Homo sapiens: one gene and its partners. The protein of the gene in region 3 purifies or fractionates together with the protein of the main gene of each other region. This does not show direct contact. Each region holds a gene or a part of one and is shown on either strand. Other genes may lie near its edges.

The links. Proteins that work in one complex are often made in the same cells at the same time.
Region 1: the proteins of SLAIN2 (region 3) and TACC3 purify together in Homo sapiens (co-immunoprecipitation; 4 studies listed by BioGRID and IntAct, with this or other methods). This does not show direct contact.
Region 2: the proteins of SLAIN2 (region 3) and PCDHA10 purify together in Homo sapiens (affinity purification with mass spectrometry; 2 studies listed by BioGRID and IntAct, with this or other methods). This does not show direct contact.

The regions. Positions count from the first base shown.
Region 1 is NC_000004.12:1,717,069-1,724,525, forward strand, and holds the start of TACC3 (transforming acidic coiled-coil-containing protein 3), read left to right. Parts: upstream 1-4,452; 5' UTR 4,453-4,575; exon of another isoform or gene 4,576-4,848; intron 4,849-6,352; 5' UTR 6,353-6,353; coding exon 6,354-6,515; intron 6,516-6,633; exon of another isoform or gene 6,634-6,659; coding exon 6,660-6,802; intron 6,803-7,457. Other genes in the region: TMEM129 (E3 ubiquitin-protein ligase TM129), read right to left, coding at 112-360, 448-607, 1,084-1,558, 3,565-3,769. UniProt on the Homo sapiens protein: Plays a role in the microtubule-dependent coupling of the nucleus and the centrosome. Involved in the processes that regulate centrosome-mediated interkinetic nuclear migration (INM) of neural progenitors.
Region 2 is NC_000005.10:140,851,061-140,858,901, reverse strand, and holds the start of PCDHA10 (protocadherin alpha-10 isoform 1 precursor), read right to left. Parts: upstream 3,006-7,841; 5' UTR 2,854-3,005; coding exon 466-2,853; coding exon of another isoform or gene 319-465; exon of another isoform or gene 1-318.
Region 3 is NC_000004.12:48,414,522-48,421,541, reverse strand, and holds part of SLAIN2 (SLAIN motif-containing protein 2), read right to left. Parts: intron 1,418-7,020; coding exon 1,099-1,417; intron 1-1,098.

The DNA.
Region 1 (7,457 bases), about 47 Mb from region 3:
ACATCATGTGCTTTAAGTAGAGCCCTTTGCCAGCCAGGAGGCCCAGCCACCCCCTTCCCTGCCCTGTGGCTTTGGGGGGAGACACAGAGTCACCTCAAGGCCCCAGCCCACTCAGCGCACGGTGCACACATCCAGGATGCAGAAGCGTGCGCGGCAGGTGGGGCAGGGCACGCGGCTGGCCAGCCAGGTGTCAGGGCGCAGGGGGTCCTGGCGGCTGGCGAACCACTTGCCCATGCAGGTGAGGCACCACATGGGGCGGCAGTAACACTGCTGGCACTCGCCTGTGGCTGCCTCCTGGCAGGTCTTCACCAGCTTCACGCTGGCACGTGTCTGCATGCAGCCTATGCAGGCCTCCAGCTCCTGCGGGCAGGTGGAGCGTCACCAGGAGCCCAGGCAGACACCCGTGGGCACCCACCCATCCACCCGGCCCTGGCCCAGGCCCCCCACCTGGCTGCTGGGCACTGAGTAGGCCGGGTTGACCTCTACCAGGGAGGCAAATGTCTCCAGGAACAGGTCGCCCAGGCTCTGGTGGATGACCACATGGGCTGCCCTGCGGATGGGTGCCCGGAGCTTCTCGCAGAGCTCCCCGTACTCAGTGGAGTTCAGCCTGCAGGGAGGAGAGCTGCTGGGCCCCTCTGCAGGGCAAAGGGAGCGGAAGATGGAGGCTACACCCCAAGGAGTGACAGGGCAGCTGTCGCACCAGGACCAACCAGGAGAGATGGCCCTAAGGCCAGAGCCCACGGACCCAGTGCCAGACAGCCCAGCCTGGGCACGGGACGGACCTAGGAGCAAGGCAGCTGTCCAGCCTGAGGGCTGCACTGTCCTGAGTGCTCCCCAAGAATCTGGGGGAGGTGGCTCCAGGGAGTGGAAGGGGAGGCCAAGAGTGCAGGGGGACCCGAGGGAGGGCTATGCGGGAGGGCTCAGTGACTGGTGTCTTGTGGACACCTTGCCTGGTGTCACACAAGCCCAGGAGTGTTGGAGTCCACACCAGCTACACCCAGCACCTCCCAGGGGTCGTGGCACCAGAGCCTGGCTCTGGCCTGCCATGTGCCCTCCGCAGCCCCACAGGCACCACACTCTTACCAGATGTCAAAGGCCTGCACAGCAGGGTTGGTGCTGGCCACACGGATGGTGAGGAGCTGCACGGGCAAGTTCGAGTCTGGCGAGAGCTCATGCTGCCGAGACTCCGTCACAGTCAGGTGCACGTCCTGCTGCTGGGCCACGTGCACTCGGTAGGTGGTTACCTTCATCACCCACGTGTCTGTCACAATCACACGGGCACCTGGTGCACCGGTGGCAAACTTGTCAATCCGCCGGAACTCAGTGTTGACAGAGGAGGCAACAGCCTGCCAGCCAGACTGTGGGAGGGCGTAGAGGGCCAGGGTGCGCGCCAGTGGGTGGCAGGCCCACCGGTCACGGGACCAGTAGTAGATCAGGATGCAGGCGATGGAGGGGAGGGTCACGGCCAGCAGCAGGAAGAGCCGCCAGGCCTCAGGGGCCTGGCTGAGGGCGTGGAGCCGCTTTTCTGAAGCCGCAAGGCACATGCCCACATAGTAGCCTGCAAAGGACAGGGTGAGCCTCAGGGGAAAGTGAGTGGCAGGCCGCTGTCCACCCCCCGACAGCCCTGGACCTGGCCCTCTGCCCGGGTTCCAGGGTCAGCTCCCAGGGTAATTGGGCTTTACCCACTCTGCACTTCCCCAGCCGGCCACTCTCTCCCTGCCTGTGGCAAAGGCAGGATATATTAGCGGAAAAGGTTTTTAATTTGCTGCTTTAGTTTCACACAATACGTAAGTGTTGAAAAAACTACAAAAGCCTAGAAAGGGAAAAATAAACACAATCAGGTGTCACCTCAGGCAGAGCTGACCCCTGGCCTGCCAGGGCAGCTGCCTGGACAGGATCTCAGTCTCTCAATCTCACCCGCTCTGAGGAGGCTGATCAAATGTGGTGCATCCCAGAGCTGAAAAGTTATGTGCGAGAAAGGAAGCAAGTCTCAAAGAATGATGGGACATGTCCAGAGGACACGGAGCCAGCTTCAGGGCCCTGCTGGCCAGATCGAGGACAATTTGAAGGTCCAAATAAGCCATGGAGATGGTGAGGAGTTGCACCAGCAGGTTCCAGTTGGCAAAAAGTAATAGTCCACATTTGGAGTTGGCCCAGTCACTGCATTTCAAGGTAACATGACATATAACAATAGGTAACTAGGGGCCGGGTGCAGTGGCTCACACCTGTAATCCCAGCACTTTGGGAAGCCGAGGCGGACGGATCACGAGGTCAGATCGAGACCATCCTGGCTAACACGGTGAAACCCCATCTCCACTAAAAAATACAAAAAATTAGCCGGGCGTGGTGGCGGGCGCCTGTAGTCCCAGCTACTCAGGAGGCCGAAGTTGCAGTGAGCCGAGATCATGCCACTGCACTCCAGCCTGGGTGACAGAGCGAGGCTCCGTCTCAAAAAGTAAAAATAAAAATAAAACAGGTAACTAATACCTAATAAAGCTTGAAAACTTTCAAACTAAGTTAAAAATAAAAAGAGCTTGACATCCGACTGTGAGGCCAGCTGTGCTGTCTGCTCCAGGTGTGGCTGCCACAATTCACTTGTGGTCCCTCATAGGCCTCTGGGGAGGGTGCAGCTGGAAGGGCTACAGAAACCCACCCAGTAGCCCTAGAAAGTGGCCTGGTCAGGGCCCCAGCCCCACTCAGCCCCATCCATCTCTCAAGTGGGCCCCCAGCCCACCCTCTCCATGAGGCAGGCCTGGGCGCCTCCACCCGACACCTGCCTCCAGTTCTTCTGGGCCCAGGCAGCTGCATCCTCAAACCAGGATGTGGAGGGTCACCCCTCTTGTATCCCCAGAGTGGCAAACCTGGCCAGCCACTGGCCATCTGTCCTCCCAGGGCTGCGTCTGCCCCCGTGTCCTCCAGAGGTACCCCCTTGAAATCCCCCTCCAGCCACTGCACACCCCACCTCCCACCTGTCCGTCATCCAATCAGCTGAGAGAGGGACCTTCCAGAGCCCCAGCTAGCACCTGGGGCCCAGCCCAGCACCCCCCTGGACAACTCTGAGCGTCCCACCTGCACTGCACAGAGGCCCTCCCCAGCCTCTGCCCCTGTGGCGCCCCCAAACTGGAACTGCCTCCAAATCCGCCTGTTCTCTCCACACCCACCTTCCAAGGCCTAGTGCAGTGCCACCCTCCACACAGCCCCTCCGACCCCTTCCGTTGGACTCAATCAACAGTTGCCTTCTCCTGGCCACTGCCCCCAACCACGACAAGCAAGGGCTGCTTGGCCTTGCAACCCCCAGGCACGTGACGGTTCAGGACTTGGTGGGCCGGAGCATCCCTTGCCCAAGGTTCTGAACTTGGGTTCCCGTCACCTGCAAGTCAGTGCCGGCGGCGCCCCTAAGCGCGCTCAGCCCACGCCGCGGTCCCTCTGGATGAGGACCGGCGCCTCTCCCCAGCTGCGCCCAGGCGCTTTCGGGGCCTCGGGGAGCTGGCGGAGGCCTCCTCCTGACCTCCCAGCAAGCCCTGCGCAGGAGAGGATGCGGCCGGCCGGCCCGAGCAGCCTCACCGAGCGGCAGCAGCGAGTGGCACAACAGCGTGGCGGCCGTGCGGCGCAAGTGGAAGGGCACGAAGGCGGCGTCCTCGCTGCCCAGCCAGCCCGACAGCAGGTTCTGCACCGTGAGCCCCGCCGCGTGGAACTCGTTGGGCGTGAACACGAAGCACACGGCGAACACCAGATAGGCGAGAGTGAAGGTCACCTCGGGGCTGTCCATCGCGCAGCCGCCGGGAAGCTGTCGAGCTAGGCCCCCGCCCCGGCGCGCGGACGAGGCCGCAGCGCCCAGTCCCGGACCTGTCGGTTGCGGCGGCCGCCGCCCGGCCGCCCGCGGGGCACTCTAGGACATGGAGTCCCGCCGCCCGGCCGCCCGCGGGGCACTCTAGGACATGGAGTCCCGCCGCCCGGCCGCCCGCGGGGCACTCTAGGACATGGAGTCCCGCCGCCCGGCCGCCCGCGGGGCACTCTAGGGCATGGAGTCCCGCCGCTCGGCCGCTCGCGGGGCGCTCTGGGAGATGCAGTCCCCGTGCGGGTGCGGCCTCTCTTCTCGGCCGGCCCTGGAGGCGGCACCGCACCTGTGCATTGAGCACAGGTGGGGAAACTTAGGCCTGAGCGAGGCCCTGGCCATGAAGCCCCGCCCAGTAGCGTCAGTTGCGGAACTCGAAATTCATGGGGCGACTGCGAGCCCGGGGTCTCAGCTTCAGACACCCTGGCGTGCCCTCCACTCCGGAAACGGAACCGTCGGCGCCCGAGCGGGGGGTGGGGGGGGAGGGAGGGCGGAGCCGGCGAGGCACAGCTTCCCATTGGACGCCCGCCCTCCTGCGGTCCTGCCCCCGGCCGCGCGCTGATTGGCCGCGCGAAGGCAACCGTCGGCGTTTGAAACTCCGGCGCGCCGGCGGCCATCAAGGGCTAGAAGCGCGACGGCGGTAGCAGCTAGGCTTGGCCCCCGGCGTGGAGCAGACGCGGACCCCTCCTTCCTGGCGGCGGCGGCGCGGGCTCAGAGCCCGGCAACGGGCGGGCGGGCAGGTAGGAGAGCGGCTACACGGCGCGGGGAGGCTGGGGTCCTGGGGGCGCGAGGCCGTCCCGCCCCGCCCCGCCCTCGGCCCTCGCCCTCCCGCCCCGGCCGCCGCTTTCCCCGGGAAGCGTCCCCCACGGCTCCTCCTGGGGCCGCCGCCAGAACCTGTACCGCGCCCTGTCATGGGACCCGGCCCTAGACCGACCGCCGGGCTGGGCCCCCTGGATGGTGGCCAGGGGCGGCTAGAGCTGGGCCAAGACCGACGGCGGAGCGGGCGCCCCGAGGTGCTTTGCTCTCCTCGACCCTCTCCTGTCTCTCGGTCGCCCACCTTGGCTCTTTGTTGGCTCCCAGCACGCGGACCCTCCTGTTGTTCTTTGGTCCCTTCCGGCCTCCGTCCTGGGGCCAACTCCATCTAGGCCGCCTGCGGCGGACACCTGGGCCCCTACCGCTTCCCCGCACCTGCTGCGCCGCTCCACCTTCCCCCCGCACCGCATCCCTCTTGTGCACCAGAGTAGCACCAAAGCACCAGCCTGGGGCCGGTCCCTTCTCTGCCCAGAGCCCCTCCCGGGCCTCCATAGTCAGTAAAGGCCCCTCCTGACTAAGGCTGGGTCTGCTGCTCTCCCGAGCTCCTCCAGGCCGCCAGAAGGCTTCCTCCGAGTCACTTTCTCCCTGAGTTCGAGGCTTGCGGGTCCCCCAGCGATCCAGCACCCCTTCCCCTGCCCTGTACCCAGTTATTCAGGGCGAAAACCTAAGCGTCGTCCGTAAGTCCCATATGTGCCAGTGGCCAGGCCCGGGTCTGGTCTGGCATCTACTCCTTGGGCTCCAGAAGCCTGTGGTTTCCCTGCTTCCCTTCTGCTCTTAACCTCCCCACCCACACACAGCACCACAGTGGGCTTCTCAAGCTGCAGCACCGACCTGCCGGGGCTGCCCCCTCTCTCTTCTCCAGGACCCTCCCCAACTTTGCTCTTCTTCAAATCAAAGCCTCCCCAGGTCCCCCTCCACCACCAGGTGCCTGTGGGGTTCCTGCCCTGGTCGACACTCGGTTCTCTCTGGCAGCCTTTTTCCCTACGTCATTCCCTAGACTGGGAACGCTGTAGACAGAAAGGGTGGCAAGTGTGTGGGTGACCGGCGTGAGGACCTGGGCAGCCCTGGAACCTGGGACTGACTGGAGGCTCTGATGTGGAAGTTCCTTGGCACCTGTTGCTCAGCTCTGGGCTTCCCTTGTTTGCGCATCGTCTCCCAGCTCCTCCTCTGGGCCTTCACCCTCTCAGCCTGGTCTTGTCCCGCTGCCTAGCCCGGTGGGAGAGAGCAGACCAGAGCCGCTGTCCTGCTTTTCTGCCCTCTACTGCCCGGTCCTGCCTCACGTCACACGCAGAGGCCTGTGGGGAGACCAGGGCTTCCTCTGGCTCATCCGGGTTTCTTATTGGCCCGGGCTTTTCCGTCTCTTGACTTCTGCTTGATATAGTAATACAGCAGTAGAGATTATGCAGGCTTGGGTTTTCTTTCTCACCATCTCAGCCTGAAGGCCCTTTAGCTCTTGGTCCCAGGAAGCAGCAGTGCTGCCCATGGCTCCCCCTGCCAGGCTGGAGAGTGAGTCTCTGAAGCAAGATGGGGACTCAGTCTGAGGCTTTCTCTGCCAAGAGACACGTGTGGGAGGTGTGAGTTCCAGAGCAATGAGCACACCTGTGTGGGAAGTGGTCGTGCCCCTTGCAGCAGCTGTCACGTCTGTGTCTGGACAATGTGGTAGTGTTGCCCTCACACTGACACAAACATGTTCTGCTTTTCCAGAATGAGTCTGCAGGTCTTAAACGACAAAAATGTCAGCAATGAAAAAAATACAGAAAATTGCGACTTCCTGTTTTCGCCACCAGAAGTTACCGGAAGATCGTCTGTTCTTCGTGTGTCACAGAAAGAAAATGTGCCACCCAAGAACCTGGCCAAAGCTATGAAGGTAAGTGTGACCTGTACAGTGTGTGGCTGGCCAGGTTGCCCTAGGGCCTGCTTTCTTGGTGACCTCTGAGCTGCAGGACACTGCTGGTGTGGCTGTAACAGCTTGAACTAATGAATAGGTGCTCTCCTCCTCACTCCGCAACAGGTGACTTTTCAGACACCTCTGCGGGATCCACAGACGCACAGGATTCTAAGTCCTAGCATGGCCAGCAAACTTGAGGCTCCTTTCACTCAGGATGACACCCTTGGACTGGAAAACTCACACCCGGTCTGGACACAGAAAGAGAAGTAAGTGTTGGTGCTGCTGGACATGCTGGAGCTTCACCCTCTCTGTCCGATGGTTCTTGCAGGAAAGTGCTGTCTTGTTCTATCAGGCCTTGGCTGGATTTTTTGTTTGTTTGTTTGAGATGGAGTCTCGCTCTGTTGCCCACGCTGGAGTGCAGTGGCGCGATGTCCGCTCACTGCAAGCTCCGCCCCCCAGGTTCATGCCATTCTCCTGCCTCAGCCTTCCAAGTAGCTGGGACTACAGGCGCCTGCCACCACGCCCGGCTAATTTTTTTGTATTTTTAGTAAAGAAGGGGTTTCACCGTGTTAGCCAGGATGGTCTTGATCTCCTCCTGACCTCATGATGCGCCCGCCTTGGCCTCACAAAGTGCTGGGATTACAGGTGTGAGCCACCACGCCCGGCCGGCCTTGGCTGGATTTCTCCTGAAATCTGCACTGAGTGTATGCAGCATATGGCCAGTTCACTAACAGAAAAGTCGATCATCAGATACTTGGATAACTTCATACTTCACTTTTTTTTTTTTTTTTTTTTTTTTTTCTGGAGACAGAGTCTGGCTCTGTCACCCAGGCTGGAGTGCAGTGGCTCGATTTCGGCTCACTGCAAACTCCACCTCCCAGGTTCATGCCATTCTCCTGCCTCAGCCTCCCGAGTAGCTGG
Region 2 (7,841 bases), on a different chromosome or scaffold from region 3:
ACGCTACACATATTCTACACATGGAGGAAAACACATTTTCACTGAAGAGATATAGATCAGTGGAATTTTTTGGTAATGCAAATACAATCAAATCAAAATTTAGATTGGAAATGAAATAACATGAAGTACTAATCTCACAAATATTTGTAACGAAAAGTGATTATGAAAGTAAATCGTCAGAACTGCAACCTATATCACATATTTGTATTGGAAAATATTAGTGTATTCAGAATAAATTGTTATTTAAAAAAATTTAAGTACCAATCAAAGGCTGACACACTGGGTAGGATAAAAAAATTTTAAAACTCCTGGAATAAATTATATTACAAAGGTATCACTAGAAATATTCAAGCATAAATGGAATGTAGACAAAAATGAAATATTCTGATACATATTTGAGAAAATGCGGTAAGAGAAAATATTATTCATAAAGCACAAAAGGAAAATGAAAACGTAATAACCCACCTTCCTAGAGTGGTCCCCTCCAATAGACTGATCTTCCCCGTCCACATCTACCATTGGGCATGGTGGAAGGCTGGGGCTGAAGGCCATGAGGTCCGCCTTGGGCAGGCCCTCCCCAGAACACACCCTCTGCCGCCTCTGCTGCGAGTAAGACCAGCTCCCCACCGCGCTAGAGCACACCAGCGTGGGCTTCACCGGCCCACATGCGCCCTCGGTGGGCGCCGCCGAGCACCTCAGTGCAGTGTACAGCAGCAGCGTGAGCACCAGCAAGCTGGACACCGCGCAGATGGCGATGATCAGGTACACGTTGACATCCACCAGGGCCACCTCGGGCGCCACGCCCACTGAAGCCCGCGACGAGGCCTTGGGTGCCTGGCTGCCCTCCACAAGCGACACAAGCACAGTGGCCGTGGCCGTCAGCGACGGCTCGCCATGGTCCTTCACCAGCACCAGTAGGCGCTGGCGTGGCGAGTCAGTCTCATCCAGAGCGCGCGTCGTACTGATCTCGCCCGTGTACAGCCCCACGCGAAACGGGATGCGTGCACCAACCGCCGCCGACTGCAATTCATACGACAGCCACGCGTTGTATCCAGAGTCAGCGTCCACTGCGCGCACCTTAGCCACCACGTGACCCGCAACCACCGACCGCAGCACCAGCTCACTGACTGCACCGCCCGCGCTGCCAGCGGGAGACGCCAGCAGCGCGGGAGCGTTGTCGTTCTCGTCCAGCACGAACACCTGCAGCGTCAAGTTGCTGCCCAGAGGCGGCACGCCCCCATCGCGCGCGCTCACCTGGAACTGTAGCAGCTCCAGCTCCTCGTGGTCCAGCGGCTGCAGCGCGTACACCTTGCCGCTCTCCGCGTGCACCGACACGTAGCTCGACAGCGAGCGCTCGCCCAACCGCCGCTCCACCAGAGAGTAGGACACCAGGGCGTTCTCCTGCGCGTCCGCGTCCCACGCAGACACCGTGAAGATGTGGCAGCCTGGCGGGTTGTTCTCCTTCACGAACACCGTGTACTCGGACTGCGCGAACGCAGGCGCGTTGTCGTTCACGTCGGCCACCTCCACAGACACGCTGGCCGTGGCCCACAGCGGAGGCGAGCCCCCGTCCCGCGCGGTCACCACCAGCTCATAGGCCGACACCCTCTCGCGGTCCAGAGCGCTGTCCAGCACCAATGAGTAGTAATTCTTGTAGGTGGACACCAGCTTGAACGGAACGTGAGGCGTCAGAGAGCAGGTGACCTGTCCGTTGGCTCCTGAATCATGGTCAGAAACGCTGATTAGGGCAATGACGGTGCCCACTTGAGCATCTTCTTTCACTGGGAGAGACAGAGAAGTGACAATCACCTCAGGTGAATTATCATTTTCATCCAGTAGTTCCACTAGGACCGTGCAGTGACCAACCATAGGTGGGTTTCCCTTATCTGTAACATCTACATGAATTTCATAAGTGTTACTGTCCTCAAAGTCAATAGCATCATTTACTTTTATTTCTCCCGTCCTTTCGTTTATCCAAAATTTCCTTCTTATCGTGGGTGGGACCAAAGAGCTAAATGAATACATCATTTCCTTGTTTATTCCTTCATCCGAATCAGAAGCGTTGAGCCGTATTACTAATGTTTGGTTCACTTGATTTTCATACATCTTAACTTCATAAACCGGTCTGTCAAAGATAGGGGCGTTATCATTGGCATCTAACACCAGGATCAGCAGAGAAACAGATCCGGTAAATTCAGGTTTGCCTCCATCAGTTGCTGTCAACAACAACTTTAGCTGAGGATTTTCTTCACGATCCAGCAGCTTCCGCAGAACAAGCACTGGGAATTTGTCTTTGTCTTTTTTGTTTATAATATCAAGAACAAAATACTCATTTGGACTGAGTTTGTAAGTAAGCAATGCGTTCTCTCCAACATCCGCATCAGATGCGCCTTCTAGTGGAAATCGAGAGTCAAGCAGTCTGGATTCAGGTATTGAGAGCTTTTGTTCTGTTACGGAGAACCTGGGCGGGTTGTCGTTAATGTCCTTCACTTCCACGTCCACATGGAAAACCTGCAGCGGCCTGTCCACGATCACCTCCAGGTGGATGCTGCACTCCACGCTCCGCCCGCACAGCTCCTCGCGGTCAATCCGAGAATTCACAAACAAAATGCCATTCTGCAGATTTACCTCCAGAAGGTCCCCGTGTCTTTTGGACGCCACCCGGAACAGGCGCTGCACCAGCTCCGCCAGCTCCAGCCCCAGGTCCTGCGCGATGCGGCCCACGAAGGTGCCGTGTCTGGCCTCCTCGTAGACTGAGTAGTGGAGCTGGCCGCTCCCCACCTCCCAGGCTGCGAGGAGAAGAAGCGAGAGCAGCAGACACTGGACCCCCAGGCAGCTACATCTGGAAACCATCTTATCCTTCTCTTGTTTTACAAATCGACGAATCAGCGGTCTAGAACGCACATACGATCTGACATTTTCTGTCCTATTTCTTATATCTATTTTTTATCGAAATGGCTGAGATCTCAGAATGACGCTACTTCCTAGTCCTTGAGAAACTGGCTGATGCCTTTGTTCTAAAAAGCTATTTTGTGGACGACAGCGACATCCGGTGGCTTTAGGTGTAAGTACGATTCCATGAGTTCACAACTTTTCTTTCATTCATATGTTAATTCTTTTTTTACGTATTTTTATGTCTATGGACTTTCAAAGCCTCACATTACGTCTCTTTATAGTTAATAACAATAAATGTTGATCCCACGTGCAATGTTTTCTTAAATGTAGACTCTCAGAGTAGTGATTTCTTCCCTAACCACATGATTATCAATAGCCGAATTTCAAAATGCCCTTAATATTTGCATACTACTGAGTATACTAATATTTTATTAAATGACAACTTTAGTTCCATTTAAGTTCTGACACTTAACTTACTTCTCTTTCTCATTATTTTGAGATTTAATAAGGTTTATTTAGACACTAATGTCAAGCATCAACTATCTGTGAGGTGTTTATAACTCCGAAGATCTAGTCATCACTAGAATTTAGAGATCATTAGCTTCAACATCAGACATTTCTCCATTTAGATTCCTATTATCCTACTCACTAGCCACATGACTTGGGAAAATCGTTTAACCTCTCCCTCCCTCATGTTCCAATTTTATAACTTTGGCCTAATAGTAATACGGTGGTTGAGTGAATTATAATATAGTAAGTGCTTGCAATAGTACCTTAAGGAGAATGAGTGCTTCATAAATGGAAACTATTCTCAGGCCTCAATTTGGCCACATTTGTTTTCATGAGGCTCAATACCAAATTTGGCTCATCAGGCAAAATTATTACCTATAGAATGCCTTAATTATTGCTACTGCACAGGCTGAGAGTGGTGGTTTCTGTATTTAAGAAAACAGAAAAGTACTATTACAGAAAAATCCTTTATACAAGAAGTTTCATTTTATAATATCTTACACGGGCAAAAAGAATCTTAATTATAATTCTGAATAAAGTAATTAAGAAATTTATTATTTCTGCTTTCAGAGGCAAATGCTTTCAACCCTGTTATATTTACGCTTTTCAAATGCCCAAAAGACACAGTTCTGAAATATATCTAGTAATTTTATCAATGTCAGTGAAGTTTTTCATCACCACTTGCAGTAAAAATATTTTTTTCTCTCTCAAAGTTCTTGAAATCAAATATTCAGGAATGAAAATGTAATATATCTGTGCTGCTGAAAAAAACTTGAGTTTTCTGTCTTTCCAAGAAAGGAAAACTTAACAACAGACATATTGGTCTTATGCAAGGGTTAATTTATTTTATTTAATGATGTTTTGACTTTTCTAAAGAATATTTTTAAATGTGTCAATTACTTTAAACTTTTTTTATTAAAATCTGAATGACAGAGCAACAATATTTATGAATAAGAAAACTGACAGAAATGGGTGTCACTTAATCCATCAGTTTATGTGTCCTACTAAATTCTGTTTCTATACTTCTCTACTCCTCTGGAATGCCTCTTGCATCAAAATTCATTCAAATTCTGATTTTAGAGATTACTTTTTTATAAACCCTGAATTAAAATGTAATGAGTTATGTATCAAAATATCAACGTTTGTTTTAGCTATCTGGAGCGTAAAATAAGTTTGCCATTGATCAATCATCTCCACGCACAAAATAATAAAAACTAAACTCAATTTCTACTAATGTACATTTTATACCAAGTGATAACATAAATATCCCAATGTAGATGTCCAATATTGAATAAAAAGTAGGGAGTAGTTAAACTACTCTTTTTTTTTTTTTTTTTGAGACAGAATCTTGCTGTCACCCGGGCTGAAATGCAGTTGTGCCATCACAGTTCACTGCAGCCTCAATGTCCCAGGCTCAAGCGATTCTCTCGCCTCAGCCTCCTGAGTAATTGGGACTAGAGATGTGTGCCACCATGCCCGGCTAATTTTTTTTTTTTGGCAGAGATGAGTCTCACTACATTGGTCTCAAACTGCTGGGCTCAAGGAAGGGACCCTCCCACCTTGGCCTCCCAAAATGTTGGGATTGCAGGTGTCAGGCCACCACATCTTTTTAAATTACAGAAACTTGCACTGTCAAGTATCAAATAGGGCTATGGATCTAAAATTTCGGTTGTATGAGAATCATCTCAGGTGTGCTTTAAAATGAAAATTTGCTCTTACTACCCATTTCAGAATTTCTGAGGTGGAGCCTTGAACCAGAACATTCAATGAGGACTTAGGTGCTGCTAATGCTAATGCGTTAGCAGGTCTAAGGATAGGTTGACCATAGGCCCCAATTTGTCTGGAACAGGCTCAATTTAGGTCTGTGATCTTGTATACTTATTTACAGCACCCCCTTTGCTCTCAAAGTGTCTAAGATATTGGGTGACAACTTAGTTTTTCCTATATAGTAATTACAACTTGAAAAGAGACATAGGAGGAGCTTCATTATTGTTTCATGATTCTAACTTGAATTGAGGAATGTTAACTACAGATGCATATAAGGAGACCTATTAGGCAAAATAGGAAAGTGTCTCTTCTGCTTTCACCTCTCTGTTTTGAACTTGACAGGCTGTTTTGAATTTTACCATCTCTGGATCCCTGTGAGTTCATGTTTGCTAATGACCTCAAAAGATAAATTTATTACTAAGGTGTTCACAGCCCTTCTGAGAATTTGCATATGATGAGAGCTTGTACTCTGAGAGAGAATAGAGATTAATATGAAGGACTAAATTACCAATCCCATCAATACAGCCGTCAATAATAAAGAACACATTTTAGGCCAGGCGCGGTGGCTCACGCCTGTAATCCCAGCATTTTGGGAGGCTGAGGCGGGAGGATCATGAGGTCAGGAGATCGAGACCATCCTGACTAACACGGTGAAACCCCATCTCTACTAAAAATACAAAAAAATTAGGCGGGCATGGTGGCAGGCGCCTGTAGTCCCAGCTACTCGGGAGGCTGAGGCAGGAGAATGGCGTGAACACGGGAGGGGGAGCTTGGAGTGAGCCAAGATGGCACCACTGCACTCCAGCCTGGGCAACAGAGCGAGACTCTGACTCAAAAAAAAAAATACGTTTTATGATTATTGATGACATAGTAAATGCTTAGTAAGTACTAGCTCTAAGGAGACTGGAGGACTTAGGGCGGGAGACAAATGACATCTGTAGCATCCCTCTATTCACATCAAATAATCAGATACCTGGGTCCAAGTTTAAATGGCACATGAAACTTGAAAAACGTGCAAAGACAAAGATACTTGAAAGTATAAGACTATATTCAAGGTGAGTTGTGCTGATAGACAGATATAGATAGGTTTAATGACAGGAGCTCAGAGACCACTCAAGTTTTGAAAGAAAATGACAAAAAAAAAAAATAAAAAAGCCTTGGCACAGTGGCTCACAGCTTTAATCCCAGCACTTTGGGAGGCCGAGGTGGGAGCATCACAAGGTCAGGAGTTCGAGACCAACCTGGCCAACATGATGAAACCCCATCTCTACTAAAAATACAAAAATTAGCTGGGCGCGGTGGCATGTGCCTATAATCCCAGCTACTCAGGAGGCTGAGGCAGGAGAATTGCTTGAACCCAGGAGGCAGACGTTGCAGTGAGCCAAGATCATGCCACTGTACTCCAGCCTGGGTGGCAGAAAACGACTCCGTCTCAGAAAAATAAAAAGACAAAAAACATGTAATATTGTAGCATATTCCAAAAGTGTGTTTTAAGGGAAAATTTAAAAATTAAAATATTTTGTTTTAAATAAACGTTACTGGCATTTTCATAGTTATTTTTGTGGCTCTATTCTCAAGGCCATTCTGATCTTTCTCTACTGAGTTTTTAATTAGGTCATACCTTGTAAAATATCTGACACAATATTAAATAAAATAGCTGAAAGAGAAAGAAAAATATAAACCACATAACAAAAACTCAATAAGCGAAGTTTTTAAAACTATAAATTAGAAAACAAACAAATAGCTTGCACTAAAGGTAGAGTGTGGAAAACCACCATTTTGAAAGTCACATACTACAATTCAGGAAACATAACATGTAGTGACATTAAAGAGGCAAATCTCATATCCAGATTTCTGCCTTGTGTTATGTATGAGCTGAGAGGAGAAAAAGATATTTTTAAAAAAACAGATTTCTGTCTTATGGATTACTGACAGAACAAGTGAATTCTCATCTAAATTCATAAGGGTAATGTTTTAAGTTACAGACTCTGAATTTCAAAAGAACTCGAAGTTTCGAATCTTCACATGGCTGATCATTTTATCACTGAATGGAGAAAATTTCAATTAAAAGGAGAATGTCTTCTTGAAGAAAGGAAACACTTGTTTAAAAAGCATTTTCTCCAATTTCTGTAAACTGAATTTCAAAAAATGTTCTAAGTGTAGACAAAATTTCAGTCAACATTTCTTGAATTATCTACATTGTCAGGCATTTTAAAACATATTTTATATAAGTTGAAATGAAGGCTGTGTTTATAACATTTATTGACATAATTTGATTCCTAAAGTGGAGCAACTGTTTTCTAAAGTTTAGGGGAAGTTTCTTTCTTATTAAAATAATAGATACTGAAGGTTGCTGAACAATCAGATGTTCACAGTCTCCATCCAGAGAAATGTAGAGAACTACAAACTTAACAAGGTAACAATTGCTATATATTTTTGCTTGGGTTTCTTATAAACAATACAAGTAGACTAAAATACTATGCATCATTTAGCAATAAATAAATGATAGTGATGTTAATGTTTAATGAATGACTAACAACTAAATTGGTTTTCAAGTGTTATGGCAGCATAGCATCAGAAATTCAATGTCACTTTAATCACAAATTTAAATAAAATTGATTCAGCACCCAAAAAATATCTATTTAATATACAGTTTATAATTCTCACTA
Region 3 (7,020 bases):
TTTCAATATCCTCTTTTGAAAAATAGAAATAAGAATACCTACTCATTTAATATTATTATGAAGATTAAACAAAGCAAGCATTTACTTATTTAGCACAGTGATAAATATTTCCAGTTTAATTATATTTGACACCAAAGTTTACTGATGGTGGTAATCCCATTCTTGAAAGGTTACAGATGCATCATTCCCAACCTGTCTGATTCAGAATCATCTGAAGATTACGCAAACAAACAACAAACAAACAAAAAAACCAGCAACTGTAATCCCAGCATTCTGGGAGGCTGAGGCAAGCAGATCACTTGAACTCAGGAGCTCCAGACAAGCCTGGGCAACATGGTAAAACCCCATCTCTACAAAAATTAGCCAGGCATGGTGGTGTGCGCCTGTAGTCCCAGCTACAGGGGGTGCTGAGGTGACAGGATTGCTTGAGCCTGGGAGGTCAAGGCTGCAGTGAGCCAAGATTGCACCACCGCACTCCAGCCTGGGAGACAAAGCAAGACCCCATCTCAAAACAAAAACAAAACAAAAACAAAAACAAAACAAAAAACAACAACAAAATACCTAGCACACCCACAGATTCTGGGCCTCATAACAGATCTACTAAGTTAGACTCTCTGAAGGTAAAACTTACACCCTACATTTATATAAATCTCACAGATAATTCTGAATTATAGAATAAGGGTTTGAAAACCATGCTTATAGATTATACTCAGACTTGGTAGCTAGAAGTTTTATCTTAAATATCACTCTATATTCTAATATACCTTTATCATCTTTATTGAATATAATTATATTCGAAATGAATGAATATCACAATCAAATTGAGAGGCTCTAACAATTTTTTTTCTAGGGGTCCTCTGAGATGCTTAATCACGTTAGGCAACTGGACAAATTTAATCTGAACCAAACTGGTAAAAGTCCCAAATGAGGATTTCTTAAAAACAATGTAGTAAAGTTTTATTCAAATGGTACTAAAACTCTGGTGGGAATCCACCATGACTTTCTGTTTACTATCAAACATACGGATGAAGCTAATTCATTCCAGTCTATCCACTTTCAGGCACTCAAGAATGCTGAAACAGAACATCTGCCACTTACCTGCGAACAGGCTGTGCAAGTTTGCTGCGAGGCACTGGTATGCCCCCAGCAGAAGGGGCACTGGGTCTGGGCAAGCCACTTCTCATTGCAGTTGTCCCTGCAGGTCTGGTTAGAGTAGCGCTGTTGATATTGCTGGGAGGATTTGCTGAGACTGTGCTCTGAACCATAGGAGGCCCAGGTGAGGAGGTGGTTTGTGTGAGCTGTGTTATTTCTTGGCTACCAGGAGAACCAGAGCCATGGTTACTAAATGCTTTCACTGGTTGCCGAAGAGCCAAAGGAGATGGTGCTGCAGGGGAACGGAATTTGCCTGGAGAAGGTACTGTGGGATGGCAAAGAAAAACCAATTTTTGAGTGGAAATCTGTATATATGAAACCATTGCTTTAAATTACAACTGATGATTGGGCACTAGTACATGTGTATTCAGGAAACTTCACAGCAATGCAAACAATAAAAGCTATTCCTGGGCTACTAAAAGAAAAAAAGTAACTGTGAGTTCTAAATGACCAAGTACTTAGAGGATTACAACTGTCTTTGACAACAGTATTTTAAATAGGCCAGCTTGGAATCCATAATACCAGAAGAGAAAAGGCACTGCAGGATTCTGTCTCACAGTAGCAACTAATGTGGGCCACATATGAACAAACATTCTAGAGGTGAAAAACAGGTTGACTACCCAACTGTTGTCTAGAATTTGAAATGTATTTCCCCTGAAAAGAAACATTCACGTAAACATGTATCAAGTATCTGGAGGCTCTATGTCCAAATCCCATATTACTGACACTGTAACTAAAAATTTAGAAACTAAAAATCATTTTTAAAAAGTGCTTCCATTGCTGTGCTTCACAAAGCACAACATGATGAAAAAACAAACAAAAAGGCAGCTGGGCATGGTGACATGCACCCATAATCCCAACTACTCAAAACTGAAGCAGGAGAACTGCCTGAACCAGAGATGCAGAGGCTGCAGTGAGCCGAGATGATGCCACTGCACTCCGGCCTGGGTGACAGAGCAAGACTCTGCTTCAAAAAGAAAAAAGAAGATCAGGCGTGGTAACTCACACCTGTAATCCCAGCACTTTGGGAGTCCGAGGCGGGCGGATCACCTGAGGTCAGGAGTTCGGGACCTGCCTGGCCAACATGGTGAAAAACCCATCTCTACTAAAAATACAAAAATTAGTTGGGGGTGGTGGTGCATGCTTGTAGTCCCAGCTACTTGGGAGGCTGAGGCAGGAGAACTGCTTGAACCCAGGAGGCGGAGGTTGCAATAAGCGGGGATCGCGGTACTGCATTCCAGCCTGGGCAACAGAGCGAGACTCTGTCTCAAAAAAAAAAAGGAAAACAGAAAAAAGCTTATGTCCACACAAAGACTTGACTACAACTTTGTAACAGCCAAAGACTGAAAAAAGCTCAAATGTCCATCAACACATGAATGGATAAACAATTTGTAGCATATCCACGCAACAGAATACCGCTCAGCAGTAAAAAGGAGTAAACTACTGATGTATAGAACAAAGATGAATATCAAAAATTTTGCTGAATGAAATGAGTGCCAGACACAAAACAGTCCGTGTGTACATACACACACACACACTGTAGAATGTTGTGTTATAAAGAAATTTGAGGAAAGTCATATCTAATTTATGGTAACAAGCAGCAGAACAAATGTTTGTTGGAGGTTGGGAGCAACCTTGGGAAATTCCACCAAATGTTTAAGAATGAACACAAATTCAACATAATCTCCGTCACAAAATAGGAAAGAACATGTCCCAATTCATTTTATGAAGCCAGTATTACTGAGATACCAAAACTAGAAAAGGACAGTATCAAAAAAGAAAACTTCGGATCAATATTGTTTACAAATATAGATGTAAAAATCCTTAAAAAAATATTAGAAAATAGAATCCAGCAATATATAAATAGATTTATATGCCATGACTAAGGAGGATTTATTCCAAGATGCAAGGTTGGTTCAATATTTGAAAATCAATCAGTGTAATCCACAGTAACAGGATGAAGAAAAATCACAGAATTGTAACAGCGGACTCAAAAAAAGCATCTGACAAAATTCAACACAGTCATGAAAAAAGTTCTCCGAAAAACAGAAATAGGGAAAATTTCCTCAACCTCATAAAGAACATCTACAAAAACCCTACAGTTAACATTATACTTAATGAAGAAAGATTGAATGCATCTCCCCTAAGACCAGGAACAAGACAAGAACATACGCTCTTACCACTAATTCTAGCCAGTGCAATAAACAAGAAAAAAAAAAAAGAAGAAGAGGGAGAAGGAAGGAGAAAGAAGGAGGAAGGAGAAAGAAGGAGGAAGGAGGGAGGAAGAGGAGGAAGAGGAAGAAGAAGAAGAAGAAATAATAATAAAAGGCACAGAGGTTAGAAACTGTCCCCATGGTTGTCTACACAGAAAATCCCAATGAATCTACACACACACACACTTCTAGAAATAATAAGTGAATTCAGTAAGGTCACAGAACTGGATAAAAATACAAACACTGACTATGTTTCTATATGCCAGCAACGAACATTAGAAATCAAGATTAAAAATACCACACCATAGATAGCTCTTATTATTTTGAAATACATCCCATCAATACCTAATTTATTGAGAGTTTTTAGCATGAAGGGTTGTTGAATTTTGTCAAAGGCTTTTTCTGCATCTATTGAGATAATCATGTGGTTTTTGTCTTTGGCTCTGTTTATATGCTGGATTACATTTATTGATTTGCGTATATTGAACCAGCCTTGCATCCCAGGGATGAAGCCCACTTGATCATGGTGGGTAAGCTTTTTGATGTGCTGCTGGATTCGGTTTGCCAGTATTTTATTGAGGATTTTTGCATCAATGTTCATCAAGGATATTGGTCTAAAATTCTCTTTTTTGGTTGTGTCTCTGCCCGGCTTTGGTATCAGAATGATGCTGGCCTCATAAAATCAGTTAGGGAGGATTCCCTCTTTTTCTATTGATTGGAATAGTTTCAGAAGGAATGGTACCAGTTCCTCCTTGTACCTCTGGTAGAATTCGGCTGTGAATCCATCTGGTCCTGGACTCTTTTTGGTTGGTAAACTATTGATTATTGCCACAATTTCAGAGCCTGTTATTGGTCTATTCAGAGATTCAACTTCTTCCTGGTTTAGTCTTGGGAGAGTGTATGTGTCGAGGAATTTATCCATTTCTTCTAGATTTTCTAGTTTATTTGCGTAGAGGTGTTTGTAGTATTCTCTGATGGTAGTTTGTATTTCTGTGGGATCGGTGGTGATATCCCCTTTATCATTTTTTATTGTGTCTATTTGATTCTTCTCTCTTTTTTTATTAGTCTTGCTAGCGGTCTATCAATTTTGTTGATCCTTTCAAAAAACCAGCTCCTGGATTCATTGATTTTTTGAAGGGTTTTTTGTGTCTCTATTTCCTTCAGTTCTGCTCTGATTTTAGTTATTTCTTGCCTTCTGCTAGCTTTTGAATGTGTTTGCTCTTGCTTTTCTAGTTCTTTTAATTGTGATGTTAGGGTGTCAATTTTGGATCTTTCCTGCTTTCTCTTGTAGGCATTTAGTGCTATAAATTTCCCTCTACACACTGCTTTGAATGCGTCCCAGAGATTCTGGTATGTGGTGTCTTTGTTCTCGTTGGTTTCAAAGAACATCTTTATTTCTGCCTTCATTTCGTTATGTACCCAGTAGTCATTCAGGAGCAGGTTGTTCAGTTTCCATGTAGTTGAGCGGCTTTGAGTGAGATTTTTAATCCTGAGTTCTAGTTTGATTGCACTGTGGTCTGAGAGATAGTTTGAAAACTGGCACAAGACAGGGATGCCCTCTCTCACCGCTCCTATTCAACATAGTGTTGGAAGTTCTGGCCAGGGCAATCAGGCAGGAGAAGGAAATAAAGGGTATTCAATTAGGAAAAGAGGAAGTCAAATTGTCCCTGTTTGCAGACGACATGATTGTTTATCTAGAAAACCCCATCGTCTCAGCCCAAAATCTCCTTAAGCTGATAAGCAACTTCAGCAAAGTCTCAGGATACAAAATCAATGTACAAAAATCACAAGCATTCTTATACACCAACAACAGACAAACAGAGAGCCAAATCATGGGTGAACTCCCATTCACAATTGCTTCAAAGAGAATAAAATACCTAGGAATCCAACTTACAAGGGATGTGAAGGACCTCTTCAAGGAGAACTACAAACCACTGCTCAAGGAAATAAAAGAGGACACAAACAAATGGAAGAACATTCCATGCTCATGGGTAGGAAGAATCAATATCGTGAAAATGGCCATACTGCCCAAGGTAATTTACAGATTCAATGCCATCCCCATCAAGCTACCAATGACTTTCTTCACAGAATTGGAAAAAACTACCTTAAAGTTCATATGGAACCAAAAAAGAGCCCGCATCGCCAAGTCAATCCTAAGCCAAAAGAACAAAGCTGGAGGCATCACACTACCTGACTTCAAACTATACTACAAGGCTACAGTAACCAAAACAGCATGCTACTGGTACCAAAACAGAGATATAGATCAATGGAACAGAACAGAGCCCTCAGAAATAATGCCGCATATCTACAACTATCTGATCTTTGACAAACCTGAGAAAAACAAGCAATGGGGAAAGGATTCCCTATTTAATAAATGGTGCTGGGAAAACTGGCTAGCCATATGTAGAAAGCTGAAACTGGATCCCTTCCTTACACCTTATACAAAAATCAATTCAAGATGGATTAAAGATTTAAACGTTAGACCTAAAACCATAAAAACCCTAGAAGAAAACCTAGGCATTACCATTCAGGACACAGGCGTGGGCAAGGACTTCATGTCCAAAACACCAAAAGCAATGGCAACAAAAGCCAAAATTGACAAATGGGATCTAATGAAACTAAAGAGCTTCTGCACAGCAAAAGAAACTACCATCAGAGTGAACAGGCAACCTACAACATGGGAGAAAATTTTCGCAACCTACTCATCTGACAAAGGGCTAATATCCAGAATCTACAATGAACTCAAACAAATTTACAAGAAAAAAACAAACAACCCCATCAAAAAGTGGGTGAAGGATATGAACAGACACTTCTCAAAAGAAGACATTTATGCAGCCAAAAAACACATGAAGAAATGCTCATCATCACTGGCCATCAGAGAAATGCAAATCAAAACCACTATGAGATATCATCTCACACCAGTTAGAATGGCTATCATTAAAAAGTCAGGAAACAACAGGTGCTGGAGAGGATGTGGAGAAATAGGAACACTTTTACACTGTTGGTGGGACTGTAAACTAGTTCAACCATTGTGGAAGTCAGTGTGGCGATTCCTCAGGGATCTAGAACTAGAAATACCATTTGACCCAGCCATCCCATTACTGGGTATATACCCAAAGGACTATAAATCATGCTGCTATAAAGACACATGCACACGTATGTTTATTGCGGCACTATTCACAATAGCAAAGACTTGGAACCAACCCAAATGTCCAACAATGATAGACTGGATTAAGAAAATGTGGCACATATACACCATGGAATACTATGCAGCCATAAAAAATGATGAGTTCATATCCTTTGTAGGGACATGGATGAAATTGGAAACCATCATTCTCAGTAAACTATCGCAAGAACAAAAAACCAAACACCGCATATTCTCACTCATAGGTGGGAATTGAACAATGAGATCACATGGACACAGGAAGGGGAATATCACACTCTGGGGACTGTGGTGGGGTCGGGGGAGGGGGGAGGGATAGCATTGGGAGATATACCTAATGCTAGATGACACATTAGTGGGTGCAGCGCACCAGCATGGCACATGTATACATATGTAACTAACCTGCACAATGTGCACATGTACCCTAAAACTTAGAGTATAATAAAAAAAAAAAAAAAAAAAATACCACACCAATTGCATTGCTTGAAAAGA